Homo sapiens: one gene and its partners. The protein of the gene in region 2 interacts with the protein of the main gene of each other region in a pairwise test. Each region holds a gene or a part of one and is shown on either strand. Other genes may lie near its edges. The genes, in order: LYNX1, COQ8A, LYNX1-SLURP2 and MTIF3.

Evidence for each region.
Region 1: the proteins of COQ8A (region 2) and LYNX1 interact in binary tests that used the Homo sapiens proteins (3 or more experiments, as listed by UniProt).
Region 3: the proteins of COQ8A (region 2) and LYNX1-SLURP2 interact in binary tests that used the Homo sapiens proteins (3 or more experiments, as listed by UniProt).
Region 4: the proteins of COQ8A (region 2) and MTIF3 interact in binary tests that used the Homo sapiens proteins (3 or more experiments, as listed by UniProt).

The regions. Positions count from the first base shown.
Region 1 is NC_000008.11:142,773,409-142,781,865, forward strand, and holds the start of LYNX1 (ly-6/neurotoxin-like protein 1 precursor), read right to left. Parts: upstream 3,795-8,457; 5' UTR 3,698-3,794; intron 3,615-3,697; exon of another isoform or gene 3,506-3,614; intron 3,124-3,505; exon of another isoform or gene 3,036-3,123; intron 2,714-3,035; 5' UTR 2,550-2,713; coding exon 2,498-2,549; intron 2,287-2,497; coding exon 2,185-2,286; intron 1,956-2,184; coding exon 1,759-1,955; 3' UTR 1-1,758. Other genes in the region: LYNX1-SLURP2 protein precursor, read right to left, coding at 2,185-2,286, 2,498-2,549. UniProt on the Homo sapiens protein: Acts in different tissues through interaction to nicotinic acetylcholine receptors (nAChRs).
Region 2 is NC_000001.11:226,942,956-226,950,749, reverse strand, and holds part of COQ8A (atypical kinase COQ8A, mitochondrial), read right to left. Parts: intron 7,436-7,794; exon of another isoform or gene 7,347-7,435; intron 1,268-7,346; exon of another isoform or gene 1,115-1,267; intron 1-1,114. UniProt on the Homo sapiens protein: Atypical kinase involved in the biosynthesis of coenzyme Q, also named ubiquinone, an essential lipid-soluble electron transporter for aerobic cellular respiration.
Region 3 is NC_000008.11:142,774,873-142,783,455, forward strand, and holds the start of LYNX1-SLURP2 (LYNX1-SLURP2 protein precursor), read right to left. Parts: upstream 3,001-8,583; 5' UTR 2,887-3,000; intron 2,331-2,886; exon of another isoform or gene 2,234-2,330; intron 2,151-2,233; exon of another isoform or gene 2,042-2,150; intron 1,660-2,041; exon of another isoform or gene 1,572-1,659; intron 1,250-1,571; 5' UTR 1,086-1,249; coding exon 1,034-1,085; intron 823-1,033; coding exon 721-822; intron 492-720; coding exon of another isoform or gene 295-491; exon of another isoform or gene 1-294. Other genes in the region: LYNX1 (ly-6/neurotoxin-like protein 1 precursor), read right to left, coding at 295-491, 721-822, 1,034-1,085. UniProt on the Homo sapiens protein: Acts in different tissues through interaction to nicotinic acetylcholine receptors (nAChRs).
Region 4 is NC_000013.11:27,434,645-27,440,860, forward strand, and holds the end of MTIF3 (translation initiation factor IF-3, mitochondrial), read right to left. Parts: intron 5,806-6,216; 5' UTR 5,805-5,805; coding exon 5,345-5,804; intron 2,630-5,344; coding exon 2,472-2,629; intron 1,250-2,471; coding exon 1,031-1,249; 3' UTR 999-1,030; downstream 1-998. Other genes in the region: GTF3A (transcription factor IIIA), read left to right, coding at 161-390, 489-548, 789-953. UniProt on the Homo sapiens protein: IF-3 binds to the 28S ribosomal subunit and shifts the equilibrium between 55S ribosomes and their 39S and 28S subunits in favor of the free subunits, thus enhancing the availability of 28S subunits on which protein synthesis initiation begins.

The DNA of each region.
Region 1 (8,457 bases), on a different chromosome or scaffold from region 2:
AGCTCTGGGCCCAGTATGATGCCCATCTTCCCTCTGGGGAGTCACGTTCCTCCCGCTCCGGGCCCGTTCCCACCCAAGGTCCCTTTGCAGAAGACTGGCACTGTCCTCCTCCAGCGGGAACTGGGTGTGCCCTCAGCAAGACTCTGCCCCCTCCCATCCTCATGTTCTCAGGAGACTGAAGCTGGGCACTCAGAACCAGCCCCAGGAGCAGAACGCAGGCCTGCATATAGACTCACTGCAAGGAGACCCCTGGGGTGGAGACCCTCATTCCCTGATCCCCCAGGGGTCCTGCATCAAAGCTCTGGAGATGCAATTTCCAGCAGGGGCTCCCCTGACCAGGGCCATACTTTGGGGCCGGGACAATCCTACCACATGGATATGTCACCATCCTGCCCATGCGGGATGGCTTGAAGGGTTTCTCAGGACACCAGAGCTGGGAGCACTGGTCAGGTGGGGGCCTCAGGTGCAGCGTGACCGCTGGCACCAAAAGGTCTCACGCCCCCGAATGCCCCATTCACAGCAGGGGCAGGTGCTCCCTGGGCTACCTGCATCGGGGATGGATTGGTGCGTGTTGGGCTGACCCCTGCTTCCCAGGCCTGGGGTGGGGTCCCTGGGAGTCCACACACCCAGCTGGGGCTTCCACCCTGCCCTCCCAGTGGGTGCATCCCCAGGTGGAAGGTGATGGAGGGACCCACTCACTGTGCGCATCCCGCTGCGGGGGAGGGGCTGGGTCTCCGCCCTCCCCACCCCACCCTCCCCACTCCCGCCCCCGCACGGCCACGAGAGGGTGGCATGCTCCGCCTTCCCACGCCCAGGCCCGCGCCGGCCCCAGGCTGCTCCCAACCCCCAGCCTGTGCGCGCATCCCCCAGTCCTGCGTCTTTTGCCTTGCTCGGCTGGGTCCTGCTGTGGTTGGGGACCAGGACTCGGGGGACCACCTGCTCTGCCCCTTTCCCTCCCTGCCCAGAATAGCGCTGGCCGGGTCAGCGTCCAGGACCCACCAAATATAGCATGGCCCTAGCTCCTGCCAGCTTCAGGCCTGGTGCCCTCCCCGTGAGGGGGTGGGAAACGTCAAGGGGTTTGACTGAGAGGACACACACCCCTTGCTGGACCCGAAAAAGCTTCTGTGACTTCGGGGGCCCTGGGGCCTGCTGAGGCAGAGCCGCCCCCTCCCCTGCAGGGGGTGGCTCCAACTCGGGCCTGGCAGACTTCCTAGCACAGGGGCCGGTGCCAAAGGCCCTCCTCCCACAGCCCTGATCCCGTACCGGTCCTGGCAGCTCCTGGCCTCAGTAGGAAGCGTGACTAGGCCTGGAGGAGCCTTTCCTCCTAAGAGTCTCCCCACCACCCCACCTGCGGGCATTCCTTGTCTTCCCCCTGCCCCAGCACACCAGGGGCAGACTGAGGCAGGGGCCTCTCCTAGGGCTTCCCAGAAGGTGGGCTTGGCCACAGCTCCCATCTGCTCAGTGCTCCCTGCCTGACTGGGCCCCTCCCCATAAATAGCCCTGGACAGGCGAGGGGCTGATCAGCCCATCAAAGCCGGACACTTTTGGGATCCCACACAGCATCGAAAGGTCAAGGCCTCGAAGTGAGGTCGTGTGGTGGTTGGGGGAGGTCGGGTGTCTTCTTGCCCACAGTCCTGACCCTGGGCATGGCTGAGGAGGTCGCAGGGAGTGTGGAGGGTGAGGCAGGGTGAGCTGGGTGCGAGGGTGTAGCAGTGTGTCTCGAGAGCTTTGTTCTTGAGTGGGTCTGCCTCGGGGGCTTTAGAGGAGACCCCAGAGGGTGGCCAGGAGGATGGGGGCCAGGGCCAGGGTGGCCGGGGTGGCAAGGCCGGTGCCGTTGCAGAGGTCGTACTGGCAGCAGGAGGTGGTGGACGCGTGCTTGGAGTAGCCATCATACACAGTCTCGAAGCAGCGGGGCACGCAGGACTTACTGACCTTCATCCTGGTGGGGGTGTAGTCTGCAGAGGGGCGGGGCGGTGAGCCAGCTCCGCTAAGAGGGGCAGGAGACCCAGCTGGCCCCACCCCAGCATCCACAGCCATCAGGGCAGGGCCCCTCAGCCTGGAGCTCCCAGACAGGATCCGGGAACAGGAGAGCCTCCTTCCTCAGGACCCCCGCATGCTCAGGGGCAGGGCAGAACCTCCCCTTCGTGCTCCCCAGGCAGGGCCACGCAGGGCCCCCAGACTCACAGGTGCGCGTGGTCATGCAGTAGGCAACCATAGCCGGGCAGCGCATGGGGTTGAAGCAGTTGTCTCCGTTGTAGGCACACACGTGGCAGTCCAAGGCCTGGGCTGGGGTTGGCAGATGGGCGGGAAGGGAACGGGGGTCACAGAACATGAGAGGCCCCTCCTCCAGCCCATCAGGCCCCCAGCCCGTCACCTTCCCCGGGGCAGGGGGCTAGAAGGAGGGGTTGTCGCTGGGAATTCTAGCCTCCTTCCCTACTGTCAGCCCATCTGCCCTCAAAGTGGGTCTGCCCATCCCTCTGTCCTTTGTCCATCTTACCCAGAGGTAAGCCCATGAGGACCACCAGGATCAGGGTGAGCAGGGGCGTCATGGCTGCAGGCAGGAGGGCAGCGTGGGAGTGGGGAGGTCAACAGCAGCTAGCCCTGGATCCAACTCAGGGGTGGCGCACAGAGGATCCAACTCAGGGTGGTGCGCAGAGGACGTGGGGCCGGCCCTGCCTCCCGGAGCTCCTGGTCTACTGGGAGTGCTGCAACCCTGCACAGCAGGTGGCAAAGACAGGTGGTCAGTACTGGGCCTGAAGGACCCATGGGGGCCTGGGCAGGGATGATGGTGGGCAGAGGGGCCACCTAACTCAGTGGGTGTCAGGGAAGGTTTCCTGGAGGAGGAGACACTTGGGATGGGACAAGAAGGGAGAAGAGATCAGGACATTTCAATCAGAGACCAGCACCTGCAAAAGCTCAAAACAGCCTGTAGCGCTGGATGGAGGAGAGATGGGGGGAGGATGAGGGGCAGTGCTAGAGAAGGAGTAGGGATGGGCAGAGGGGCCTTAAATACCAGGCCTAAACAAGGATTTTACCCAGGGGATGGTTGGTGCAGAGGTCCCATGGGAGGTGGTCTGCAGCCCCATCCCAAGCAGGGCCCTGGGGGCCGGATGGCTGGCCATGGCAGGACTGGGCCCAAAAGCTGGGTCTCTTCTCGCTGTTCCCCTCCTCTCTGCTCCTGGGGTGTCCCTACTTGGGGTTCCTTCTTCCAGAAGACCTCCAGAGCCCTGGTTAGGGTTGTCTGAGTCCTCGGCCACTGCAGAAGCTCCCCAGCAGGGATGAGCTGTGCCCAGCTTGGGGGGAATGCATTTTGAGCCCCTCCCAGGAGGGCACTTGGGCCAGACAAGAAGAAGCATTTCCCCGGCTGGGTCTGGTGTTTGGAACGGGAATGCCCTCTCTGGAAAGAGGTTTACAGTGGGGAGGTGGGGGTTGGATTACGGCTCTCCTACCCCTGCCGGGATACTCGGCCCTCGGTCTCCGTCCTGGAGGACTAAATTAAACTTACGCCTTCCCGAGAACAACAAATCCGTCTCTCACGACACATTTGCCCAGGCCAACCCCAGGATGCCAAAGGCCAGAGTCAGGCCTGCGGCTTCGAGCTTCCCAACCCCCTCACGGAGAGCCCCGCCCCAAACACTGCGGTCCCAGGTCGAGGGGAGGGCTCTCGGCGCGAGCGGGACTATCAGGGTGACCTCACCTGTGACCTTCACCACCGTGAGGTACCGCCGCGCCTGGGAGTCACCCGCGGCCGCTCGCCGGTAGGTGCCTGCCTGAGTCTAATCGTAGGCGTGTCTGTGTGTCCCGCAGCACCCGTGCCGCATCGCCTGATGCTCACCGCAGGCCCAGCCCAGTCCCGCCCCCGGAACAGCCCGCCCAGCGCGAGCTCACCGCAGGCCCCGCCCCAGGCCTGCCCCGGCCCCACCTCCTGAGCAACCCCCCGAGCCGAGCTCACCGCAGGCCCCGCCCCGGACCCGCCTCCTGGGCTACTCACCAAGCCGCGCTCACTGCAGGCCCCGCCCCTGCCCCGCCTCCTGGGCACCCGCCGAGCCGAGTTCACCGCAGGCCCCGCCCCGGACCCGCCTCCTGGGCACCCGCCGAGCCGAGTTCACCGCAGGCCCCGCCCCGGACCCGCCTCCTGGGCACCCGCCGAGCCGAGTTCACCGCAGGCCCCGCCCCGGACCCGCCTCCTGGGCACCCGCCGAGCCGAGTTCACCGCAGGCCTCGGCCCGGACCCGTCCCCGGACCGCCGGCTCGCCGGGCAAGCGCTGGGACCCCGAGGCCAGTCCAGGCATCTGGATCTCCGACACAGAGGCAGCCACGCAGTGATTCCCTGGCGACCCTCAGACTCACGTGTTCAGCCCGGACACTCCGCAGGCTATCTTCACCGCGTCCCGCGGCAGCCCAGCCTTCCCCGCAGCCGCCTCCGCCCACTCGCCCGCGCCGCGTCGTTTGTCGGCCGGCACCAGCCTTGCGGCCCCAGCTCCGCCCTCCTGCAGCCCAGGCCCAGCAGCTCCGGAACTGGCGCCCTTTGGCGCACCCGCCTCGCTGCCCATGGCCTCCGCCTGCCTCCCCTGCGCTCAGCTCCCGCTTCTGGTCCCTGTAGCAAAGCTGGAAGGCAGGCCTGCAAGGCAGCCCCTTGCTCCGTGGTCCCTCTCACCATCATAATGTTCATATTAAATAATTATCTTTACATAACTTTGAATACTTATGTTATTGGTTCTGTTTTTGGCAAAATGTAATAAAATTTCATGGGTCCGAAAGTTTTCATTTTTTCCAATGTGAGAAAGAAAAATAAAACCTTTTCTTCTACCCTAAAGCTCATTTTTTTCTTTAAAACATTTTTGCGGGCCTGAGGTACAGAATACACCATGCCTGCTGGGCAAGCGGGCTCCGGTTCCAGGAAATCCTTCGGTCCCCAGCAAACTAGGCCAGTTAGTTGTTCTGTTTGCCGAGAGGTAATGCGCACCCTCCTGTGCCAGGTCCTAGTTGGGGAGAAGGCAAAGAATAAAACCAGCAGACGTTCCAGAATATTCCCACCCCATGGAGCTCACACTCTGGTGGGATAAGGGGCGTGGAAGGAACGCATAGGTCAGAACCAGAGTATGTCGCGGTCTTCAGCCTCAGACCACGATGAATTAATACGGATGAAACTTCCCTTGCCCGCCCGCCAGCGCTCGCCTCCTGCTGTGTGGCGTGGTTCCTAACCGGTCTGTGACCCAGGGGTTGGGGACCTTTATGTTAAAGGAAGTTCTTCAGGCAGAAATACGGATCTACACAAAGGAATAAATGACACCAGAAATAGGAAATAGAAGGTAATTTTTTTCTTATTTTTGAATCAAGTTAAAAGATAGTTGATTACCTAAAGCAAAAATAATAACAATGTATTAAGGAATTTATAGCAAATGTAGAAGTAAATTGTATGATAATAGTAGTGCAGGCTGGGCACCGCGGCTCACGCCTGTAATCCCAGCACTTTGGGAGGCTGAGGCGAGTGGATCGCTTGAGCCCAGGAGTTCAAGACCAGGCTTGGCTGGGCAACGTAGAGAGACCTCATCTCTAAAAAAAAAAAAATACCAAAAAATTAGCTGGGTGTGGTGGTGCACACCTGAGGTTGCACCCAGGAGGCTGAGGTGGGAGAATCACTTGAACCCAGGAGGTGGAGGTTGCAGTGAGCTGTGATCACGCTACTGCACTGAAGCCTGGGTGATAGAGCAAGACGCTGTGTCAAATAAATTTAAAAAAAAATAGTAATACAAATAGACCAGGAGAGGGACAATGGAAGTTCACTGTTGTAGATTTATTCTACTCTATGTGAAGTGGCCTACTATTTCTTGGAGGTAGACTAGTAAGTCAAAGGTGTATGCTAAGACGCTAAAGTGTCACTAAAAAAAGACAAAGAAAAAAGCAAAAGTCAAAGCACTGTAGTTAATAAATCAACAAAAGTGATGATACAGAATTATTTATTTATAAAAGCACATGTTACAGAGACTGCAGAAGAGGAGAAAGGAAAAAACAATGAGACAAATAGAAAACAAATAGCAAGATGACATATATTTAAACCCAGCCACAGCAATAATGACACTATGTCATCTAAACACTTCAATCAGGCTGAGCACGGTGGCTCACACCTGTAATCCTAACCTGTAATCCCAACACTTTGAAAGGCTGAGGAAGGTGGATCACTTGAAGTCAGGAGTTCCAGACCAGCCTGGCCAACATGGTGAAACTCCCTCTCTACTAAAAAATACAAAAATTAGCTGGGCATGGCGGTGGGTGCCTGTAATCCCAGCTACTTGGGAGGCTGAGGCAGGAGAATTGCTTGAACCTGGGAGGCAGAGGTTGCAGTAAGCTGAGATGGTGCCACTGCACTCCAGCCTGAGCGACAGAGTGAGTGAGACTCTGCCTCAAAAACAAACAAAAACATCTCAATTAAAAACAGAGGTTGTCAGATTGGATAAAAATAGAAACAGCCAAGTATATGCTGTCAGTGGGAAACTCACCAGACATGTAAAAACACAAATAAGATAAAAGTAAAAAGATGGAGAGAGATATACTATGCTAACACCAATTAAAAGAACACAGACATGACTACGTCAATATCAAAGTAGGTTTAAAGCAAAGACTATAATCAGAAATAAAGAGGAGCATTACTGGCCAGGTGTAGTGGCTCTCATCTGCAATCCCAGCACTTTGGGAGGCTGAGGTGGGAGGATTGCTTGAGGCCAGGAGTTTGAGACCAGCCAGGGCAAAACAGCAAAACACTATCTGTACTAGAAAGAAAGAAAAAAAATTTAAAAAGAGGGACATTACCAAATGATAAATTGATCAGTTCATGAAGAGGACTCAGCAGTTCTAAATATGTATGCACCTAACAATTAAGCTTCAAAATACACAAAGCAAAACAAACAACATCTGATAGAACTGAAAGGAGAAAAAGAAAATCCACAATAACAGAGATTTCAACACTCCTCTTTCGAGAACTGATAAAAAATAGACAAAAAGTCTGTAAGGATGAAGACGTGGATCACATTACCAGTCAACATGACCAACTTGATGTTTGTAGGACACTCCACCTCACAGAAGGGGAACACACCTTTATTTACCAATAATGTCCTCCAAGGCAGACTGTATTCTGGGCCATAGAACAAATCTCAGTAAATTTATACGGATTAAAATCATGCAGATTATTTGCTTGGACTACAATGGAGCTAAATTAGAAATCAATAACAGAAATATATCTAAAAGATCATCAAATATTTAGAAACTGAGTAATAACATATTTCTAAACAACTTATAGGTCAAAGGAGAAACCAAAAAGGAAATCAGAAAATATTTCCAACTGAATGAAAATGCAAACACAATTCATCAAAGTCAAAGGATGCAGCTGAAGTGGGCCCTGGAGGGAAATTTTGCACTAATGCTTCTTTTAGAAAAAAAAGAGCTAAAACTTCTTTTGGAAGAGAAAGAAGTTCTCCAAAAAAAACCACCTAAACTTTCACCCTCGGAAACCAGAACAAAAAGAGCAAATCAAACCCAAGGTAAGCAAAATGAAGAAAATAGCAAAAATAAAAGCAAAAAAAAAAAAAAAAAAAAGTGAGGTAGAAAAAGAAGATAGAGAAAAATCAATGAGAGCAATGTTTGAGAATGCCCCTCCAGGAGGAGGACCTCAACAACCCTCCCCAGTCCGGCTTGTCCATGGCAGGACCAGAGAAAGGACCTCTTGCAAACCAAAGCTAGCTGCCTCTGAGTTGGGGGCTGGCCAGTGGAGTGGGCGGCTGGGGCTGCCCCTCCAGCCCTCCGTGGGATCTGGCTGTCGAGACTGGGCGTTAAGGGAGGCTCTTGGGCCCCCCTGATCTGACTGAATAATGCTCCTTTCTTTCTCCCACCTGGCCTTTCAGCCAAGATGCTGTCAGGCGTCATCAGCCCCACACAGGGCCTGCAACCTTGTAGGTGGGGACAGCGCAGCTGGCCAGAGGGGGCCGGGTGGGAGCTCAGGCCCGACTGGACGGTGAGGAGAGCAGAAGTTCCGAGCAGGTGGAGGGAGGATCCCTTTTCAGAGGACCTGGTCAGTTGCTTTTGCACAGTCTCCCTGACAGCTGCCCTCTGTCTGGACATTGTGCTTTGACTGCTTTTAGCATTTCCATTTTTAAGGCATAGAGAAAATTGCATCCGGTGATGGGCCAGGAGAGTCAGCCATGCACCCCATGACAGGGACAGTGCCCCACCCCTGGGTGCTGGCCAAACCTCAGTGGCTGTGCCTTGGGGCCCCACCACTCAATCCTATGCCTAAGCATCTCCCTGCAAGTTCTGAGCTTGGGCTCTGGCAGAGGGAGCTCCTCCTTCAGGGGCACTCAGGACATGGGGGCAGGGCTGTCGGCCCCCTCTGGCCAGCTGCGCTGTCCACACCTACAAGGTTGCAGGCCCTGTGTGGGACTGAAGATGCCTGACAGAGTCTTG
Region 2 (7,794 bases):
TAGGCACTGACATTCTCCCCCATGAATGAAACCAGTTTCACAGATGTTTTCATTTTGTGAGCAGCAGAACCAGCCCACCATGCCAATGATAACTACAGCTGCTTTTGCTGGGTTTAGTATATGCCAGGCTCTGGGCTCAGTGTTCTACTTAGCACAAAGATGTATTAACTCAATCATTTTCAAAAGGTAAATTATGCCCATTTTACAGATGAGGGTGCTAAGGCACAGAGTGGTTAAGTAATTTGCCCGAAGTCACACAGCTTTTAAGAAGTAAAGCTGGGACCTGGATCCATCATGGCTCAGGAGCTAGGCAACCTGTTTAACAGGTAAGAGGAGAAAAAGAGCAAAACAGTGTGTTTTTGATGTCCCAGGCTGCAAACCTCCATTCTCCATCCATTGGAAGATTAAGATATTCTTAGGATTCCCTGGGTGAGTTGCCCTGTGGTGAGCACTGGGTTGGGAGCTGGGCAGGGTTGGGGGTGATATAAAAGCAGCAGAAGGCAAAGTTCCAGCCTCTGATGATAGTCCAGAGAAGGACCCAACACTGTGAGCGAACCTGCATGGGCTCAGAGCTCCAACCACAGGCAGGCAACAGAGGGTCCCAAGCAGCCTCTCCCACTCTGTGAGTTGATATAGCCGATGACACACAAGGCTTTTAAAGGCCAACCAGCCAAGCGCAAGGTCCTGATGGCAATTTAGTTTTCTGACTAAAAACCTAGTGAAGTTTACTGCTTAAAACATTTAAATTAAAATATTTGGCTCAGGAAGTGATACTGGTGACATGGTTAAGATGCTCTGAGGTTAGGTGATCTGGGTTCACATCATGACTCTGCCACTGACTTGCTAGTGTGACCTAAATCAAGTCATGTGAGCTTATCTTTGTGCCTCAGTTTCCTCATCTGTTCTTGAAAGGACTGGATAAATCCATGTAACAGCATTCAGGACATATAGTAGGTGCTTAAAAACCATTAGCTAATGCCATTATTATTAGTAGTAGTATTGCAAGCACACAGACATTCTGGAATGAAGTTCAGACTTGGTGAGACCAACGGTTAGGGTGAATGGGATCAGTCTGGATAACCCGCAGTTGTTCCTGCCAGGCACAGTCTCATACCTGAGTTGGGAGGAAGGCTGGGCTGGGGAGGACCAGTGTGGTTTATTTAGTGCTGTGGTATGAGGCATCATTCAGGAGAGGCAGTCCAAAGTGCTGGCAGCCTGCTTCGAAACCAGGGACACAAATGTCCACTGGTATTCCTTACCACTTCACCTTAAAGGAGAAAACAGCATGGGAGGCTTTTGTCCAGGTACATTCAGGGAGAGGCAGTTGGGAAGAAAACCCCTCTAACTCCCACAAGCTCCCCAGCTCCGAGCCATGGAACACTCTCCTGCCAGATTCCTCTCCCTATAAAAAAACCCACGTTCATCATGCCAACGCGTTGCTCAAATGGCTCCTCTACCTGTAGACATGTATGTAGACATATATATAAAACCCAAACTCCTGCGCCTGAAGTCCCAGGCATCGAAATCAGGCCCCCGGCCTCCTTTCCAGCCTCCAGCTACGCGCGAGCCATGTGAGCGCACTCCACTCTGCAGGTCCTACTTTCTCAGGCAGGCCCGCTCGCCCCTTCATCTCTGTACGTCTGAAAACCCACCCATTAGCCAAGGGTGAGGGCCTTGGGGCCTTGGGGCTGGGAATCAGCTCTGCCCTGACCAGCTGGGCTGCTCCAGGCATATTCTCGAACCATCTCTGACCTGTTTCCTCTCCTCGAAATGATGGTATAAGTTATTATATTGTCCAATATAAATGGAGGGGTGGGTGGATATACTTTGAAATGTGTTAAAGCACCATATAAATTCAAGAACGTATTCCTATTCAGGCCCTTGATTCCCAGCTCTTCCATATTTACGTTCTCCTGACAGCTGATCTAACTTGCTGGTCAGATTCCTACATTGTAAGTTACTCTTCTTCTTGCACATGGACCTCTCTTCTCTTCAAACTATAAGCTCCTTGTGGGAGGCTCTTGTCTCAGACAACTCTGACTCTTCCCACTCCACCCACACACACAGAGTGATCCACCCACACAAATTACAAGCGCAAGCGTTGACTGAATTCACGAACCACTGCCACCCAGGAAGGTAATTAAGGATCCTAAAGTTGAGGTTGAAGGGTTTCTTTCAACGTTTCTTTCAGACGCTTACAGGGTTGTCTTTAAATCTGGCCAAAATACTGTGGGTGGCTGTGGTAGGCTGAATAATGGTGTCTCAAAGATACCCATACCACAATCCCCAGAACCTGTGAATGTTACCTGCAAATGGGACTTTGCAGATATGATGAAGTCAGGGATCCTGAGATGGGGGATTATCCAGGTGGGCCCAATGTAATCACAAGGGCCCATATAAGAGGGAGGCAGGCAGGGCAGAGTCAGAACGAGGTGATGGGAGACAGAAGTGAGGCTGGAGTGATGCCATTGTGAGGAAGAGGCCACAAGCCAAGGAATGCAGGCAGCCTCTAGGCTGGAAAAGGCAAGGGGTCGGGTCCTGCCCTTGAGCCTCCAGAAATGAACCAGCCCAGCTGATACCTTGATTCTAGCCTAGTGAGACCAATTTCAGACTTCTAACCTCCAGAACTGTAAGATCATACATTTATGATGCTTTGAGCCACAAACTTTGTGGTAATTTATCACAACAGCCATAGGAAATTAAAGCAGATCCTTGGGTTGGGGAGAGGGGCTGTATTCTAGAATAATTTCCAGACCATTCTTCTAAATTAACTTTGGTCACTCCACAAATACTACTGAATGCCAACCAAGTGCGAGGCACCAAGCTGGGTGGTAGACTACCCCACAGACAGCTCAGTGCATTCCTGTTCTTAATGACGGAGTCCTGTTGACTTTCTCTATATTGGGCCCATACTACATGCCAGGCAGATAGATATATATATATATATATTTTTTTGAGACAGGGTCTTACTGTTGCCTAGGTTGGAATTCAGTGGCATGATCACAGCTCACTGCAGCCTCAACCTCCCCAGGCACAGGTGATTATCCTGAGTAGCTAGGACTACAGGTGGGTACCACCACACCTGGCTAATTTGTTTGTATTTTTAGTAGAGACAGGGTTTCACCATGTTGCTCAGGCTGGTCTCGAACCCCCGACCTCAAGTGATCTGCCCACCTCGGCCTCCCAAAGTGCTGGGATTATAGGTGTGAGTCACCGTGCCTGGCCTCGGTTTTATATTCTTAATCTTTCAAAACACTTTTACTTCAGGTTTAATATCTCAATGAAATAGGAATAATAACAAGAACAGCTACCATTTATTATTCCCCTCTGTCTGCCTGTCACTTTATATTACCTCTAGTTCTTACAAAGACCTGGTGAGGTATTATCCCCACTCATTGATAGGATAATTAAAGCTCATCAAGGCTGAGCAATCTCCTAAGGGCCAAAGCTGTGGGATGCTGGACCCTTCCACACCTGTCTGACTCAGGCTCCAGTCCTTTCTTCTTACTGCCTAGGAAGCTGAGAGATAGCAGAGAAGAACACTGCCCCAAATCAATAACTCCTTTTTTGTTAAATCAATAGTCACTCAATATGAGACATCAGCAAGGTTTACATCCTGAAATGTGTCTTCCTGGTTACAGAAAATTGAGTCATAAAAATTCTGGGGCCAGCTGGGCTCTCAAAGGCCATCTGGCCAAACTCCCTGCTCTGGAAAGTTTGTCAGCTGCCAGGACTGAGGGTATCACAATTCTCAGCACCAGTGATCCTACCCACTAGAGGCAAAGCTTGGTTCCAGAGCCAGTTTGATCTTAAACATAAATAGTGGAAAGAGGCAGACGCCCTACACTGAAGACTGCCTCTGGGTGTGCAAGAGCTAGGAGGAGCCATCGGGCACACGGCCCTCAGTCTTGCCACACTCAACACCAGCACCAACCTTTATTAGCATCACCTCCAAATGCCACACACAGGCCAGGTGTGGACATGCACACATCACTGGTATGGAAGTTAAATAAACATGTTCTGCCCTGAGGTCACACACAACCCTTAGGCACTACATGTGTATGTAAAACCTCGATAGCTTTTAAAATCACCCAGTTAACCCAGACAAGGGGCAATCCTAGACAGACAACAACCACACACGCAACGAGAAATGAGAAGAGGCTCAGCAGGGTGCAAGGGGACCACAGACCCAGGAGAGGTGGCCATCTCCTTGCTGATCTCCACTCTCCCTGGTCTGGCCTGGCCAGCAAGGCCCTTCACTGTGGAGCCCCAGACACCTCTGCAGCGATACCTCTCGCTAGATGCCTCCGTGCCCCAACGCTTCAGCCAGAATGGACCCCCGGCCCCGCCCAACACCCACACAGGTTTTCCAGCTTCCACATCCTGCTCCCTCCTCCCCATGGAATATCATTTCCCCTGCTGGAATCTTGGCCACCCTGCTGGACTGGTAAACCCCTCCATAGGCAAGTCATCTCCTTTCCTCTAAACTCCCTCATCTCTTAATGGCCTAAGGTCACCTCGCCATGCCCTGTATGACTCTGTGTGTGCCTGTCCCATTTCCCTTACTGCAAGGTAAGCTCCGGAGGGAGGGGCCCTCTCTTTCCCAGTTCTGTACCCCCAACGGGGTCTGGCACTGTCCTCATACACACGAGTTTATTAGCATTATGAGTCAGTGAGGCAGGACCCAGGCACCCAGGCTCCGTGGCTTCCTGAGCTCCCTCATCGAGAGCCCAGGACTGAAGAGACCACCGAGGAGGCTGAGCACCAGGGGAACCTGAATCCCCAACATGCACAGCCACAGAAATGGCAGCAGCACCCTGTTCAAAAAGTGATTTTTACAGGAGCAAAAGCCAGATGAGTTTCCAAGCCAGCTTCATAATCCCGCTCATGGTGGGCACACAGACCCAGGGAGGGAGCAGGGGACGCAGTCACTGCTACTGCTTCCTCTGCGTCACCCCCGTCCCTGTCTAAGACTGAGGGAAAAGAGGAGGGGCTGAAGCCAGCAGGCAGCTGTTCCTCAGCAGGCCAATCAGCCCTGGCCCATGAACCGTGAGCACCAAGCAGGTGTAAACAGCAGCTACAACAGGCATCGCGGCAGCACAATGTCCAACCCTTGACCACATGCTGGCTGTAAACACCTTAGGGAGCAAGAGCCACAGGATTTTTTCAATCTCGGGAAGATTAGAGATGTTTGCTCAAGCACGTGTCAAACAGTAACCACCTTCAGCTTACCGGGCAATCGACTCTTACTTTTACCCTCCTCTGAGCCAGTATCAGTGCCAAACAAAAAATGTGCCAAGCACAGAACAAACACTGGGCTGGGGCCCAGGCTCTGAGCTTGAACTTTAACATTTCTTTTCATGTGGACTGTCCCCAGGACCCCTCATCCAGCCCCGTGAACAGCAGGGACTTGCCACCAGGTCCTCCAGTTCCCAGATGACACCGCATATATTGTGATGAGGGCCGACGGGGAGGACCAACAGCAAGGCCACCAAGCGCGGGTGACCTCAGGCACACCGCTTCTCCTCTTGGGGCCTGCGTTTTCTCATTTCCTCATGTGTAAGTGAGGCGACTGACCTGGAGGAGGTCTAGTTCCCAGAGATTAGGAAAGGGCCATGCATCCCTGGAGTGCAGAAAGTCAGCAAGGAGAGCACACACAGGGCTGTTCTGAAAGCTGGGATGTAACGGGGTCTAGAAAGAGTAATGCTCAAAACAACGCAGATACTGATCCTTCTAGAGATTCTATGAAATAGTGAGAGGTAAGAGGCAGACCAACCCTGCTGTCTTCAGAAAGGCAGAGAGGGGCGCTACAGCCTCTCTGTCTCTCAGGAAACACACCTCTGGGAAATGGAAAATTCCAGTGGACGGTGCAGAGGTAGGGAGAGATAAGGGACTGGGCTTTTCCAAATGACCCGGAAACACCTACCTTCCTGCCTCCCTTCTACACATACACACACACTCTCTCTCTCTCACTCTCTCTCTCTCACTCTCTCTCTCTCACTCTCTCTCTCTCTCTCTCTCTCTCTCTCTCTCTCTCTCTCTCTCTCTCTCTCTCTCAGGGTACAACTCCTCAAAGGATGCTGAGGCACCTAAGGCTCTTCAAGCCCCCACCCCTGGCCCTCTCACATTAAACAGAAGGCCTCGACCCCTCTTTAGCGGACCTTTGTTACTCCAGAAATGGGGGCAACCAGATAGGAGGGCCCGCACATTCTTGGCCACATCTCTCAGACCCTTCCCCTGCCTCTGTCCAATCTCCTCCCACACTGACCATCCCTCCTCCTTCCCGCAACAAGACCTTGCCCCTGACCTATTTTTTTCTTTTGCCTTCAATCATAAAAGCCCTCCCCTGAAGCCCACAAGCCCACTCTCTGCTCTCCTGTACCAAACATTTAAATAAACCTCCCATAGGCTCTGCTTCTCCTCCACCCTCTGGACATGGCTACCATCTCCCAAGGATGGAGTGCACTTGCCATCTTCCCTGCTCCCTCGGCACACACTTTCTGGCCCCAACCCCAAGCTGCCCCTCTGTGACACCTGAGGGCTCAAGCCAGTGGGTCTCCTCAGCCACCCCCTGCCCCACAGTGTTCCCTGCTGGCCCCACACTCTTCCCAGAAGCCCTCCCTCCTCCCTCCTCTCTGGCCTCACCTCCTCAGCTTCCTCCCCCAGCTCCTCTTTCTCCACCTACTCCAAGGCCTGGGAGTTCCCAGGCTGGTCCTCGACACCCCTGCCTCCCTGCCATCTGCACTGGCTCCTGGGGTGCCAGAGCCCCTCCACAGGCTCTGCACTGATGCCTCCCCACACTCAGGCCAGGCAGGACCTCTCAACAACCGAACCCATTTCCAGAACAAACCAAGTTACACACACACATACCGCATCACCACTTCAAAGACCCACAGGCAACTGGAAAGGGGTGCAGGGAAATTTCGGAGGGTGATGAAATTGTTCTATAGCTTGATTGTGGTAGGGGTTATGTGACTATGTGCGTTTGTCAAACTGCGCAGAACTGCACACTAAGAAGGATGAATTTACCGTATGCAAATTATATCAAACAGGATGGAAAGAAGTCCCATAGGCTCCCATCATGTCTAAAACTAAGATGACCACCTTCTCCCAAACCAGCTCTTCCTCCATCAACCAGCTCCTCCCCCTGATTAGAAATCTCAGCCATATATCCAGTCAGGTAGTCAGTCTAGAAATTCCACCTGCATAAATTTCTTTGAATCCATGCCTTCAGTTCTATCTCCCCTTGGGGACTCGGGCCATCCTCACTTCTCACAAACCACCTCCGTGGGGCTCCCACCCCTCCATATGTGCAACTCCAGAAAGAGCAGGACCCTCGAACTCACTCACTCCCACCAGCTCTCCTTTCCACTGGCTCTCCCGAGTTCCTGGCTGTTGCTTAACAGGAATGACAGAAGTATCTCCAGATGCCACTGTCAAATCAAGACAACTCTCTGTCTAAATATTCCTGTCTAATTTTGCACACAGCTCTTGTTTCAACGGACAAAGATAATGACTCAGTGTCCATGGTTCTTACTGGAAAATTATCCTGCCAAGTTTTGAGCTTCCCAATAATAGCCTTCTTTAAAATTCTCTTTGAGAAAGGAGAAGTGACCTTCCTTCCTGATCCTTTTCTACAGGCAACAAAGGGCACCCAAAAGATCCCCTAACTGACCAAGGAGTGTTACAGGAAAATCCTGATACATCCCCACAGGATCAAAACAGCAAGAAAAAGAAACTCACTGAATAGGCTTAGGATGGTTTTCCTTGCCCTGTGCAAGAAATCCCTGTTTT
Region 3 (8,583 bases), on a different chromosome or scaffold from region 2:
CTCCCTGCCTGACTGGGCCCCTCCCCATAAATAGCCCTGGACAGGCGAGGGGCTGATCAGCCCATCAAAGCCGGACACTTTTGGGATCCCACACAGCATCGAAAGGTCAAGGCCTCGAAGTGAGGTCGTGTGGTGGTTGGGGGAGGTCGGGTGTCTTCTTGCCCACAGTCCTGACCCTGGGCATGGCTGAGGAGGTCGCAGGGAGTGTGGAGGGTGAGGCAGGGTGAGCTGGGTGCGAGGGTGTAGCAGTGTGTCTCGAGAGCTTTGTTCTTGAGTGGGTCTGCCTCGGGGGCTTTAGAGGAGACCCCAGAGGGTGGCCAGGAGGATGGGGGCCAGGGCCAGGGTGGCCGGGGTGGCAAGGCCGGTGCCGTTGCAGAGGTCGTACTGGCAGCAGGAGGTGGTGGACGCGTGCTTGGAGTAGCCATCATACACAGTCTCGAAGCAGCGGGGCACGCAGGACTTACTGACCTTCATCCTGGTGGGGGTGTAGTCTGCAGAGGGGCGGGGCGGTGAGCCAGCTCCGCTAAGAGGGGCAGGAGACCCAGCTGGCCCCACCCCAGCATCCACAGCCATCAGGGCAGGGCCCCTCAGCCTGGAGCTCCCAGACAGGATCCGGGAACAGGAGAGCCTCCTTCCTCAGGACCCCCGCATGCTCAGGGGCAGGGCAGAACCTCCCCTTCGTGCTCCCCAGGCAGGGCCACGCAGGGCCCCCAGACTCACAGGTGCGCGTGGTCATGCAGTAGGCAACCATAGCCGGGCAGCGCATGGGGTTGAAGCAGTTGTCTCCGTTGTAGGCACACACGTGGCAGTCCAAGGCCTGGGCTGGGGTTGGCAGATGGGCGGGAAGGGAACGGGGGTCACAGAACATGAGAGGCCCCTCCTCCAGCCCATCAGGCCCCCAGCCCGTCACCTTCCCCGGGGCAGGGGGCTAGAAGGAGGGGTTGTCGCTGGGAATTCTAGCCTCCTTCCCTACTGTCAGCCCATCTGCCCTCAAAGTGGGTCTGCCCATCCCTCTGTCCTTTGTCCATCTTACCCAGAGGTAAGCCCATGAGGACCACCAGGATCAGGGTGAGCAGGGGCGTCATGGCTGCAGGCAGGAGGGCAGCGTGGGAGTGGGGAGGTCAACAGCAGCTAGCCCTGGATCCAACTCAGGGGTGGCGCACAGAGGATCCAACTCAGGGTGGTGCGCAGAGGACGTGGGGCCGGCCCTGCCTCCCGGAGCTCCTGGTCTACTGGGAGTGCTGCAACCCTGCACAGCAGGTGGCAAAGACAGGTGGTCAGTACTGGGCCTGAAGGACCCATGGGGGCCTGGGCAGGGATGATGGTGGGCAGAGGGGCCACCTAACTCAGTGGGTGTCAGGGAAGGTTTCCTGGAGGAGGAGACACTTGGGATGGGACAAGAAGGGAGAAGAGATCAGGACATTTCAATCAGAGACCAGCACCTGCAAAAGCTCAAAACAGCCTGTAGCGCTGGATGGAGGAGAGATGGGGGGAGGATGAGGGGCAGTGCTAGAGAAGGAGTAGGGATGGGCAGAGGGGCCTTAAATACCAGGCCTAAACAAGGATTTTACCCAGGGGATGGTTGGTGCAGAGGTCCCATGGGAGGTGGTCTGCAGCCCCATCCCAAGCAGGGCCCTGGGGGCCGGATGGCTGGCCATGGCAGGACTGGGCCCAAAAGCTGGGTCTCTTCTCGCTGTTCCCCTCCTCTCTGCTCCTGGGGTGTCCCTACTTGGGGTTCCTTCTTCCAGAAGACCTCCAGAGCCCTGGTTAGGGTTGTCTGAGTCCTCGGCCACTGCAGAAGCTCCCCAGCAGGGATGAGCTGTGCCCAGCTTGGGGGGAATGCATTTTGAGCCCCTCCCAGGAGGGCACTTGGGCCAGACAAGAAGAAGCATTTCCCCGGCTGGGTCTGGTGTTTGGAACGGGAATGCCCTCTCTGGAAAGAGGTTTACAGTGGGGAGGTGGGGGTTGGATTACGGCTCTCCTACCCCTGCCGGGATACTCGGCCCTCGGTCTCCGTCCTGGAGGACTAAATTAAACTTACGCCTTCCCGAGAACAACAAATCCGTCTCTCACGACACATTTGCCCAGGCCAACCCCAGGATGCCAAAGGCCAGAGTCAGGCCTGCGGCTTCGAGCTTCCCAACCCCCTCACGGAGAGCCCCGCCCCAAACACTGCGGTCCCAGGTCGAGGGGAGGGCTCTCGGCGCGAGCGGGACTATCAGGGTGACCTCACCTGTGACCTTCACCACCGTGAGGTACCGCCGCGCCTGGGAGTCACCCGCGGCCGCTCGCCGGTAGGTGCCTGCCTGAGTCTAATCGTAGGCGTGTCTGTGTGTCCCGCAGCACCCGTGCCGCATCGCCTGATGCTCACCGCAGGCCCAGCCCAGTCCCGCCCCCGGAACAGCCCGCCCAGCGCGAGCTCACCGCAGGCCCCGCCCCAGGCCTGCCCCGGCCCCACCTCCTGAGCAACCCCCCGAGCCGAGCTCACCGCAGGCCCCGCCCCGGACCCGCCTCCTGGGCTACTCACCAAGCCGCGCTCACTGCAGGCCCCGCCCCTGCCCCGCCTCCTGGGCACCCGCCGAGCCGAGTTCACCGCAGGCCCCGCCCCGGACCCGCCTCCTGGGCACCCGCCGAGCCGAGTTCACCGCAGGCCCCGCCCCGGACCCGCCTCCTGGGCACCCGCCGAGCCGAGTTCACCGCAGGCCCCGCCCCGGACCCGCCTCCTGGGCACCCGCCGAGCCGAGTTCACCGCAGGCCTCGGCCCGGACCCGTCCCCGGACCGCCGGCTCGCCGGGCAAGCGCTGGGACCCCGAGGCCAGTCCAGGCATCTGGATCTCCGACACAGAGGCAGCCACGCAGTGATTCCCTGGCGACCCTCAGACTCACGTGTTCAGCCCGGACACTCCGCAGGCTATCTTCACCGCGTCCCGCGGCAGCCCAGCCTTCCCCGCAGCCGCCTCCGCCCACTCGCCCGCGCCGCGTCGTTTGTCGGCCGGCACCAGCCTTGCGGCCCCAGCTCCGCCCTCCTGCAGCCCAGGCCCAGCAGCTCCGGAACTGGCGCCCTTTGGCGCACCCGCCTCGCTGCCCATGGCCTCCGCCTGCCTCCCCTGCGCTCAGCTCCCGCTTCTGGTCCCTGTAGCAAAGCTGGAAGGCAGGCCTGCAAGGCAGCCCCTTGCTCCGTGGTCCCTCTCACCATCATAATGTTCATATTAAATAATTATCTTTACATAACTTTGAATACTTATGTTATTGGTTCTGTTTTTGGCAAAATGTAATAAAATTTCATGGGTCCGAAAGTTTTCATTTTTTCCAATGTGAGAAAGAAAAATAAAACCTTTTCTTCTACCCTAAAGCTCATTTTTTTCTTTAAAACATTTTTGCGGGCCTGAGGTACAGAATACACCATGCCTGCTGGGCAAGCGGGCTCCGGTTCCAGGAAATCCTTCGGTCCCCAGCAAACTAGGCCAGTTAGTTGTTCTGTTTGCCGAGAGGTAATGCGCACCCTCCTGTGCCAGGTCCTAGTTGGGGAGAAGGCAAAGAATAAAACCAGCAGACGTTCCAGAATATTCCCACCCCATGGAGCTCACACTCTGGTGGGATAAGGGGCGTGGAAGGAACGCATAGGTCAGAACCAGAGTATGTCGCGGTCTTCAGCCTCAGACCACGATGAATTAATACGGATGAAACTTCCCTTGCCCGCCCGCCAGCGCTCGCCTCCTGCTGTGTGGCGTGGTTCCTAACCGGTCTGTGACCCAGGGGTTGGGGACCTTTATGTTAAAGGAAGTTCTTCAGGCAGAAATACGGATCTACACAAAGGAATAAATGACACCAGAAATAGGAAATAGAAGGTAATTTTTTTCTTATTTTTGAATCAAGTTAAAAGATAGTTGATTACCTAAAGCAAAAATAATAACAATGTATTAAGGAATTTATAGCAAATGTAGAAGTAAATTGTATGATAATAGTAGTGCAGGCTGGGCACCGCGGCTCACGCCTGTAATCCCAGCACTTTGGGAGGCTGAGGCGAGTGGATCGCTTGAGCCCAGGAGTTCAAGACCAGGCTTGGCTGGGCAACGTAGAGAGACCTCATCTCTAAAAAAAAAAAAATACCAAAAAATTAGCTGGGTGTGGTGGTGCACACCTGAGGTTGCACCCAGGAGGCTGAGGTGGGAGAATCACTTGAACCCAGGAGGTGGAGGTTGCAGTGAGCTGTGATCACGCTACTGCACTGAAGCCTGGGTGATAGAGCAAGACGCTGTGTCAAATAAATTTAAAAAAAAATAGTAATACAAATAGACCAGGAGAGGGACAATGGAAGTTCACTGTTGTAGATTTATTCTACTCTATGTGAAGTGGCCTACTATTTCTTGGAGGTAGACTAGTAAGTCAAAGGTGTATGCTAAGACGCTAAAGTGTCACTAAAAAAAGACAAAGAAAAAAGCAAAAGTCAAAGCACTGTAGTTAATAAATCAACAAAAGTGATGATACAGAATTATTTATTTATAAAAGCACATGTTACAGAGACTGCAGAAGAGGAGAAAGGAAAAAACAATGAGACAAATAGAAAACAAATAGCAAGATGACATATATTTAAACCCAGCCACAGCAATAATGACACTATGTCATCTAAACACTTCAATCAGGCTGAGCACGGTGGCTCACACCTGTAATCCTAACCTGTAATCCCAACACTTTGAAAGGCTGAGGAAGGTGGATCACTTGAAGTCAGGAGTTCCAGACCAGCCTGGCCAACATGGTGAAACTCCCTCTCTACTAAAAAATACAAAAATTAGCTGGGCATGGCGGTGGGTGCCTGTAATCCCAGCTACTTGGGAGGCTGAGGCAGGAGAATTGCTTGAACCTGGGAGGCAGAGGTTGCAGTAAGCTGAGATGGTGCCACTGCACTCCAGCCTGAGCGACAGAGTGAGTGAGACTCTGCCTCAAAAACAAACAAAAACATCTCAATTAAAAACAGAGGTTGTCAGATTGGATAAAAATAGAAACAGCCAAGTATATGCTGTCAGTGGGAAACTCACCAGACATGTAAAAACACAAATAAGATAAAAGTAAAAAGATGGAGAGAGATATACTATGCTAACACCAATTAAAAGAACACAGACATGACTACGTCAATATCAAAGTAGGTTTAAAGCAAAGACTATAATCAGAAATAAAGAGGAGCATTACTGGCCAGGTGTAGTGGCTCTCATCTGCAATCCCAGCACTTTGGGAGGCTGAGGTGGGAGGATTGCTTGAGGCCAGGAGTTTGAGACCAGCCAGGGCAAAACAGCAAAACACTATCTGTACTAGAAAGAAAGAAAAAAAATTTAAAAAGAGGGACATTACCAAATGATAAATTGATCAGTTCATGAAGAGGACTCAGCAGTTCTAAATATGTATGCACCTAACAATTAAGCTTCAAAATACACAAAGCAAAACAAACAACATCTGATAGAACTGAAAGGAGAAAAAGAAAATCCACAATAACAGAGATTTCAACACTCCTCTTTCGAGAACTGATAAAAAATAGACAAAAAGTCTGTAAGGATGAAGACGTGGATCACATTACCAGTCAACATGACCAACTTGATGTTTGTAGGACACTCCACCTCACAGAAGGGGAACACACCTTTATTTACCAATAATGTCCTCCAAGGCAGACTGTATTCTGGGCCATAGAACAAATCTCAGTAAATTTATACGGATTAAAATCATGCAGATTATTTGCTTGGACTACAATGGAGCTAAATTAGAAATCAATAACAGAAATATATCTAAAAGATCATCAAATATTTAGAAACTGAGTAATAACATATTTCTAAACAACTTATAGGTCAAAGGAGAAACCAAAAAGGAAATCAGAAAATATTTCCAACTGAATGAAAATGCAAACACAATTCATCAAAGTCAAAGGATGCAGCTGAAGTGGGCCCTGGAGGGAAATTTTGCACTAATGCTTCTTTTAGAAAAAAAAGAGCTAAAACTTCTTTTGGAAGAGAAAGAAGTTCTCCAAAAAAAACCACCTAAACTTTCACCCTCGGAAACCAGAACAAAAAGAGCAAATCAAACCCAAGGTAAGCAAAATGAAGAAAATAGCAAAAATAAAAGCAAAAAAAAAAAAAAAAAAAAGTGAGGTAGAAAAAGAAGATAGAGAAAAATCAATGAGAGCAATGTTTGAGAATGCCCCTCCAGGAGGAGGACCTCAACAACCCTCCCCAGTCCGGCTTGTCCATGGCAGGACCAGAGAAAGGACCTCTTGCAAACCAAAGCTAGCTGCCTCTGAGTTGGGGGCTGGCCAGTGGAGTGGGCGGCTGGGGCTGCCCCTCCAGCCCTCCGTGGGATCTGGCTGTCGAGACTGGGCGTTAAGGGAGGCTCTTGGGCCCCCCTGATCTGACTGAATAATGCTCCTTTCTTTCTCCCACCTGGCCTTTCAGCCAAGATGCTGTCAGGCGTCATCAGCCCCACACAGGGCCTGCAACCTTGTAGGTGGGGACAGCGCAGCTGGCCAGAGGGGGCCGGGTGGGAGCTCAGGCCCGACTGGACGGTGAGGAGAGCAGAAGTTCCGAGCAGGTGGAGGGAGGATCCCTTTTCAGAGGACCTGGTCAGTTGCTTTTGCACAGTCTCCCTGACAGCTGCCCTCTGTCTGGACATTGTGCTTTGACTGCTTTTAGCATTTCCATTTTTAAGGCATAGAGAAAATTGCATCCGGTGATGGGCCAGGAGAGTCAGCCATGCACCCCATGACAGGGACAGTGCCCCACCCCTGGGTGCTGGCCAAACCTCAGTGGCTGTGCCTTGGGGCCCCACCACTCAATCCTATGCCTAAGCATCTCCCTGCAAGTTCTGAGCTTGGGCTCTGGCAGAGGGAGCTCCTCCTTCAGGGGCACTCAGGACATGGGGGCAGGGCTGTCGGCCCCCTCTGGCCAGCTGCGCTGTCCACACCTACAAGGTTGCAGGCCCTGTGTGGGACTGAAGATGCCTGACAGAGTCTTGGCTGGGGCTGGGGCTGGGGTCAGGTTGTGTCCAGGACAGTTGAGGAGCTGTCCAGCAGGGTCACAGAGAAGCAGCCTGGAGGCTGGGAGACTGAGCTAGGGACCCCTGGAGGCACAGGGCAGAGGGCAGTGATGGGCTATGAGCTGTGACTGTCCTTGGGCTTGGTCTGGAGTCCTGCCAGCTCCCAGGCCCCATTGCAGCCACATGGGCAGCCTAGCCCTCTCTGGATCCTGCAGGTTCGCTCCCACTCCTGGGCCTTTGCCCAGGGCCCGCACGCAGCCTCATCCATGCTGCCTTCGTTGTCCCTGTACCTGCTGCTGCTTTGCAGTCTTCCCTGACCCACCAGCAGAACTCCCTCTTCCTTCATTCCTGGAGTTTGGTGGCCACAGCCCCCGTTTCCTGCCTTTCAGGGGTGGGAGTGGTAGGGGAGGTGGCATTCCCGCCTGCCTCCAGGCTGCACTGGACACAGAGCACTCCCGTTCCCTGGGCCCTGGATGAGGATTCCTGCAGCCAGCCTGCCGTGAAGTGGCAGGAGTCACTTTCCCTTGCCCAGCCTTAGTTTCCCCATACGGAAGTGGGGATGGGTGGGCCTGCGGCCTAGGCACTCCTACCCCTCTGCTCTCTGCCCGACTCCCATGCCCAGGTGCCTTCGCACACCCTGCCCTGGGCGCTTGGCAGGCCTCAGGCCACCTGTCCAGAGTGGAGTGGAAAAGGGCACAGATGGGGCCATGAGCGGCACTGGCCTGGGCGAAGGCGGATTTTCCCTGTGCAGGAGCCCCGGCACCCGGCTCTCCGGTGGCCACCAGAGGGCGCTCATACTCAGACCTCCAGGAGCACTCGCAGGCCCCTCCCACATGCCAGCACTCAGGGGAGAAGGGGCGCCCTCACCCCTTCACCCTGGGTCATGTCCCTGAGACTGGGGTTCAAGAGCCTCCAGAGAGGCCGGCTTGGAACACCCCAGGCCCAACCCCAGCCTCGGAGCCATGTGGACACTGACTACCCACAGCCACCACCCAGGGCAAGTCCAGCTGCCTGGGCCCATCCCCATCCATGGGAACCCAGCAGCCCCTTGGCCAGACCTCACCAGGGTGAAGCTGGACTGGAGGGGGCGGGGAGCATGACGCAGGGAATATGGGCCAGGTGAGGTCGCCCAGAGGCAGGGAGGGTTCCGCACCCACTGCGTGGGTTCTGGTATTTCGGGGATGAGGCTGTGACGTGGAGTGAGATGAGGCCCCCGGCAGATGCCCCAGCAAGGGGCCCTTCCCCTTCTGGAGAGGGCCAGAGGCTCCTGCAGGCTGACCCCACGCCCCCGGCATGGGAAGTCTCAGGCCTCACCTGGGTCAGAGCAGAGCTCTGCCTTCCCCCAGGGCAGCTCCCTCACAGGTCTGGCCTGGAAAACTTATGGTGACCGAGCCCCCTCCGGCCCCGGCCAGCAGACAGTGGTGTAGCATGGGTGGCAGCTGGTGAGGGGTCAGTGGTGCTCCCTGGCCCTGGGTCCAGGCACTCAGCTCTTTGTCCCACGCACCATGAGACCAGCAGCATTACCACCCCCAGTTCCAGCCAAGGGCAGGAGCACTAGGTGGGGTCTGA
Region 4 (6,216 bases), on a different chromosome or scaffold from region 2:
TCCTAGGTGATAAAAACTGGGGTTGTTTCCTTGGGAATTTCTGATTTGTATATAGTGATCAGGTTTCAGGCACTGAATGTTACTTATATATTAGGTATTAATTTTTTCTAAATGGTAATATCTGGGGAAATTTGTGAAATTTGTCTGTCTGTCCCACCAGAGGAAATACTATGTGAAGTATGCCGGAAAACATTTAAACGCAAAGATTACCTTAAGCAACACATGAAAACTCATGCCCCAGAAAGGGATGTATGTCGCTGTCCAAGAGAAGGCTGTGGAAGAACCTATACAACTGTGTTTAATCTCCAAAGCCATATCCTCTCCTTCCATGAGGAAAGCCGCCCTTTTGTGTGTGAACATGCTGGCTGTGGCAAAACATTTGCAATGAAAGTAAGCACTCACCCTCATACTCATGGTCCTATAGTCTATGCTTTCACAACATGGTTTTCATATTAATATTTCATTAATAACTTTCTCTTTCATTGTAGCAAAGTCTCACTAGGCATGCTGTTGTACATGATCCTGACAAGAAGAAAATGAAGCTCAAAGTAAGTTGAAACTACTTAGGCAAGCTTAGTTTTCAAGTGGAAATTGTTTAAGGCCAGAAGGAGTCTGTTTGGAATTCTTTTCACCTGCTTTACTGTTTGAGTCTGCACTACTGTTGAAGACTTTACTTCCTCATAAAGCAATGTTGTACACTATATCTGCTGGTACATATGACTATCGTAAAATTAACTCAGACAGTTTTGATTTTGAATTCTAATCGTGTGTCTTCCTTATTCCCAAAGGTCAAAAAATCTCGTGAAAAACGGAGTTTGGCCTCTCATCTCAGTGGATATATCCCTCCCAAAAGGAAACAAGGGCAAGGCTTATCTTTGTGTCAAAACGGAGAGTCACCCAACTGTGTGGAAGACAAGATGCTCTCGACAGTTGCAGTACTTACCCTTGGCTAAGAACTGCACTGCTTTGTTTAAAGGACTGCAGACCAAGGAGCGAGCTTTCTCTCAGAGCATGCTTTTCTTTATTAAAATTACTGATGCAGAACATTTGATTCCTTATCATTTCCATGGTCTTTGTTCAAAGTGTCTCTTTCCTGGGTCTCTTGAGTTTCTTTATATGCCTTCTCCTCATTTTTGCTGAAAGCACGAAGAACACACATTAAAGCTTTTCCTCCTTGAACAGCTTGTGGCCTAGATGAGAATGTAGCTATTCCAGGCATAGTCTGGAGTATTTGATGAAATATCTCCTCCTAAAAAAGGGAAACAGCCAAAGATTAATTTAAAATCAGAGGCTTTGGTGCTTTCTAATGTTCTGCTTGAACATTCACAAAAACTGGCACCCTTGAATTGCTGCTGTCGGTTAAGTGATTAGCTAATCAGTTCATACGTATCTGGTTAAGTTGACTGAAATCTGTACAATAACACCATGTAACTAAACTGACATGCTGAATGCTTCCTAATTTTAAATCTCCACTTCGTCATGGCACGAAGAGGCTACGTTTGGCTCAGCATTACCCTCTCCCACAAACAGAAAGCACTGGGTTTGGGCATTGGCAAAATACCTCCTCATCCCCAAGGTGTCAGCCGAGCAGTTCTCAGCACTCTCTATTGCCCCTAACAGAGTCTCTCTCAGTGACTGAAACAAATGGATACCTGGGCTCAAGAAATTCTGCATCAGCTGGGTTGCGACCTATGCTTAAGTGACTCTACTGTGGAGCTGGATTACTAAGGATACCCTTAGTGGATGATAAAGTTATCTAACTTTTAAAAAAAAAAAGCAAAATAGGTATTCCATAAACTTATGGGATTGGAAACTACACACTTTCTAGAAGACAGTCTACGTAATTAATGCCCCTATAAGTACAAAGAAGAAACAAAAAATCTATAAAGTTTCTAATTTTCCTGTTTAAGGGTTATTCTACAATTTATAAAACAATAGTATATTGCTTTTAAGGAATAATGTGTTCATATGGCAAAATACGCTGTAATGGAAACTATATCTACAGTATGCTTAGTTTTGAAAAGCAAACTAGAAAGCTGTTAACATCACTGGGTGGAAGAATTACCAGTCACTTTGTCTTTATATTTCAGATTTTCTACAATTTTTTTTTTTTTTTTTTTTTTTTGAGACGGAGTCTTGCTCTGTCACCCAGGCTGGAGTGCAGTGGCGCGATCTCGGCTCACTGCAAGCTCCGCCTCCCGGGTTCACGCCATTCTCCTGCCTCAGCTTCCCCAGTAGCTGGGACTACAGGTGCCCGCCACCACGCCTGGCTAATTTTTTGTATTTTTAGTAGAGACGGGGTTTCACCATGTTAGCCAGGTTGGTCTCAATCTCCTGATCTCGTGATCCGCCCACCTTGGCCTCCCAAAATGCTGGGATTACAGGCGTGAGCCACCGCGCCTGGCCTACAATTGTATTTTTAGATCAGAAGACCCAAAGCACAAGCAGTGGCTTGTACCTTCTTTACTTACCATTTCATTTTCTGACACGTCTACATTTTTTCCTTTCTTTATGGTAATCTGGACTAGGTGTTTTTTCTTAATCCACTGCTGAATCTGTTTAGTCTTTGTGTCCAAATCATGTTGTCCAATATTTGAAGACAAAATCAGTTCCTTTCTCAGGGTTGGTCCTGGTTTGAAACAGATAGGGTGCAAGGACTACTGACTAGTCCACTGTGAACCCTGAACTTCCCAACATGCCCATCATAAAATCCTAGGTTGCCACCTGACAATCTTCTCATCTGGCTTTCAGTTTCACAGACCAGTAAATGTCTTTTCAAATGGGGAAGATACACATAAAGGTACCAATTTTTTACCTGCCCTGGAAGGGTACTTAAAATCTGAAATGCTTCCATTTATTGTTAACCATCGTTTGTTGAAAGAACACCAAAAGATAGTCGTTTAAAGGATCAAGTTTGGCTTCATGGTGCACTTAACATCCTTATCTATCAGCTGTGGGTTGGCATCTGGGAGTGCACTACCCACTCCTTTTGAGATGCTCTCCTTGCTATAAGGGGTCAGCCAGACTGTTGGACAGGTAAGGGTCCCTACATCCTGTGTTCATGCCCTCTGTCTCCAGAAATCCTGCCTACTGGAAAATTATAGAGAAGGAACCGGCCACTCAATAAAGGTGTTGGGACAATTGAGAAGTTTATAGATGACAAAAAGTTAGGTCTCCCCAGGTATACTAATGTTCTACAGGTGAAAAATACAACTTTAAAACAAACAGAAGAAAAGACAGAATGGTTTGTGATCTCAGGATAGGGGATGGAACTCATTAAGAAAAAAAGGCAAAATGAAAAATCTAACTGGGATACGGTTTTTTCCATCATACACAACAGAGAACCCTATAAATCGGAGAAAAACCATCTACGTAGAAAAATAAAGGAATATAAACACGCAATTCACAGAAGAAAAAAGTGAAATACACATTAATTTCTCACCATTAAAATGACAAATGAGGGAGGAGGTAGAGAAACTGCATACACTGCTGCTGAGCAGTTTGATCCATTTAGGTTCATAGACCCTAGAGTATGCACCAGGGTTCATCATAAAGATTGGGGGCCAGGTGTGCTGGCTCACGCCTATAATCCCAGCACTTTGGGAGGCTGAAGCAGGCAGATCGTTGGAGCTCAGGAGTTCAAGACCTGAGCAACATAGCGAGACCCCATCTCTACAAAAAAAAAAAAAAAAAAAAAAGGCCAGGCATGGTGGTGTGCACCTGTGGTCCCAGCTGTGTGGGAGGCAGAGGTGGGAGGATTGCTGGATCCCAGGAGATGGAGGCTGCAGTGAGCCGAAATCACACCACAGCACTCCAGCCTGGGCAACAGAGCAAGACTGTTTTTTTTTTTTTTTTTTTTTTTTTTAAACACAGGGTCTCGCTCTGTCACCCAGGCTGAAGTGCAGTGGCATGATCATGGTTCTTCACTGCAGCCTTTGCCTCCTAGGCTCAAGTGATCCTCCCACCTCAGCCTCCCAAGTAGCTGGGATCACAGGTTTGCACCACTACACCTTGCTAATTTTAAAATTTTTTGTAGAGATGGGGTTTTGCTATATTGCCCAGGCTGGTATTGAATTCCTGAGCTCAAGCCATCCACCTGCCTTGGCCTCCCAAAGTGCTGGGATTACAGACGTGAGCCACCACGCCCAGTGACCTTTTTTTTTTTAAGTGACATAGTTTGACGTCATTATCCTCCCTGGTTGGTCTCTTCTGAATATTGTTTTCCAGTCAACATCCTTGTTAAATGTGGCATTACAAAACTGAGCCGCAGATAACATGTGGTTTTCTGAAGGCACACAACCTCACGATGCAGTGCTGGGAGCAGTCATCTGATGCCTGTCCCCGTGCGCCATCCATTGAACTTTCATAATGATTGGCACTTTTTAGGAACTATGAAAAACAAACATCTTTGCTTAATATCCAATTCCTGACTTCTGTGAGGCTTAAATGACAAGTGCCTCGTCAAGTGACTGGTTGTATATCTAAGAGTGTTGCTACTGATATTGCAACACAATGCTTTGGCATGGGAGATGCTCTGTGAATCACTTCAGAGTCGAAAAGGTGCTTCCAGGCTAGGCGCAGTGGATCACGCCTGTAATCCCAGCACTTTGGGAGGCCGAGGAGGGCAGATCACTTAAGGCCAGGAGTTCAAGACCAGCCTGGCCAACATGGTGAAACCCCCTCTCTATTAAAAATACAAAAATTAGCCGGGCGTGGTGGCGGGCGCCTGTAATCCCAGCCACTGGGGAGGCTAAGGCAGGAGAATCGCTTGAGCCTGGGAGGCGAAGGTTGCAGTGAGCACACATCGCACCACTGCACTCCAGCCTGGGCGGCAGGCAGAGACTCATCTCAAAAAAATAAAAAGGTGCTTCCAGATAATTAACCAAACACCTCCACTTTAGAGTTGAAGAAGGGGAAGAAAAACAAAAGGAGGGAGGTTAAATGAGTGGCCCGGCAGAGGGCAGGGAACTTGAATGTACCCCTCCTAATCTCACTCTGTTTCACCCCATCGGCTACTCAGCTTGCTGCGGCATTGGGAGAAGGCCACAGGACAGGGGAAAGAGTTCTCTTCACTTTGGTTTGTTTGCCTGGTTTCTCCCACATTTTACACAGGTTTAAAGGGAAGAGATAATGGGCAGGGTATTGTGGAAAAACAGTGAAAAAAAGGGAACAGGAGTAAGTGCAGGATAAAGGAGGAAAGACAGACACTGGGAATGGTGGTTGAATCATGAATTTTCTAGTTTCTCATTTCCCTCTTGTCACAGGCACCTTGACAAATGCTAGAATTTAAACTGCTGATTTGTAGCTCTTAAAGGATTCAGGGAGCCAACAGCAAAATACCTACCAGTTTTGGGGTTCGCCTTCTCCATCTCCCTCAGCCTCTGCCGCTCCTGGAGGATCTGCAATCCTGTCATGAGCTGATACTCTGCAGGTTCTGTGCTGGTGTTCCTTTGAACCAGTCGCAGGTCTCGCTCATCCATAAGTCTAATCACATTTGCTCGGTGCATGTTTCCCAAATCATTGCCCTTCTCATCAAATAAGTGAATAACTCGCTGACTAATTTTTCTTCCAACGTTACTAAAAGCTGTTTTATTCTTTTTTGTCTTTTTTCCTTCATTCTGGGTGTCTTCAGCGGTACTAAAGGCTTTTGCATGAATTAGGAAGGAGAGTCTTGGGGCAGAAGCAATAGGGGACAACTGTGCTGGTGCTGTCTTTTGCAGGATGTGTTTACCAAAACATCTAATGCAACTATTTTCAGACTTTACAGTTTGTAGTGTTAACCTCTTTAGAAAAAGAGCAGCCATCCTAAGAAAGTAGTAAGAAGAGTTCATTAAAATTCAATCACTTATTCCCTTGGTCTGACATTGTGGTACATGGCAGGGTGTGTGTGAGGTTGTGGAGGCTGTAACTGCAAGTGTGAGGGAAATGCTGTTCTCTAGACTTTCAGATCCACACACAGGAAGTCTACACTGATAAAGCGGACTAGCAGGTGACTCTGGCCAGACTAACTCATGGTGATACTGTCCCCAAGACAAGTGGCTATTAGAATAAACCAGATTTACATAGCATTTTGGTTTCACTTTTTTTTTTTTTCTGTACACATGATCTCATTTGACTACTTAGTTGACCCCTGAACAACTTGGGAGTTAGGGAAACAGACCCCCTGTGCAGTTGAAAATCTGTGTATAACTTTGACTCCTCAAAAACTTACTAATA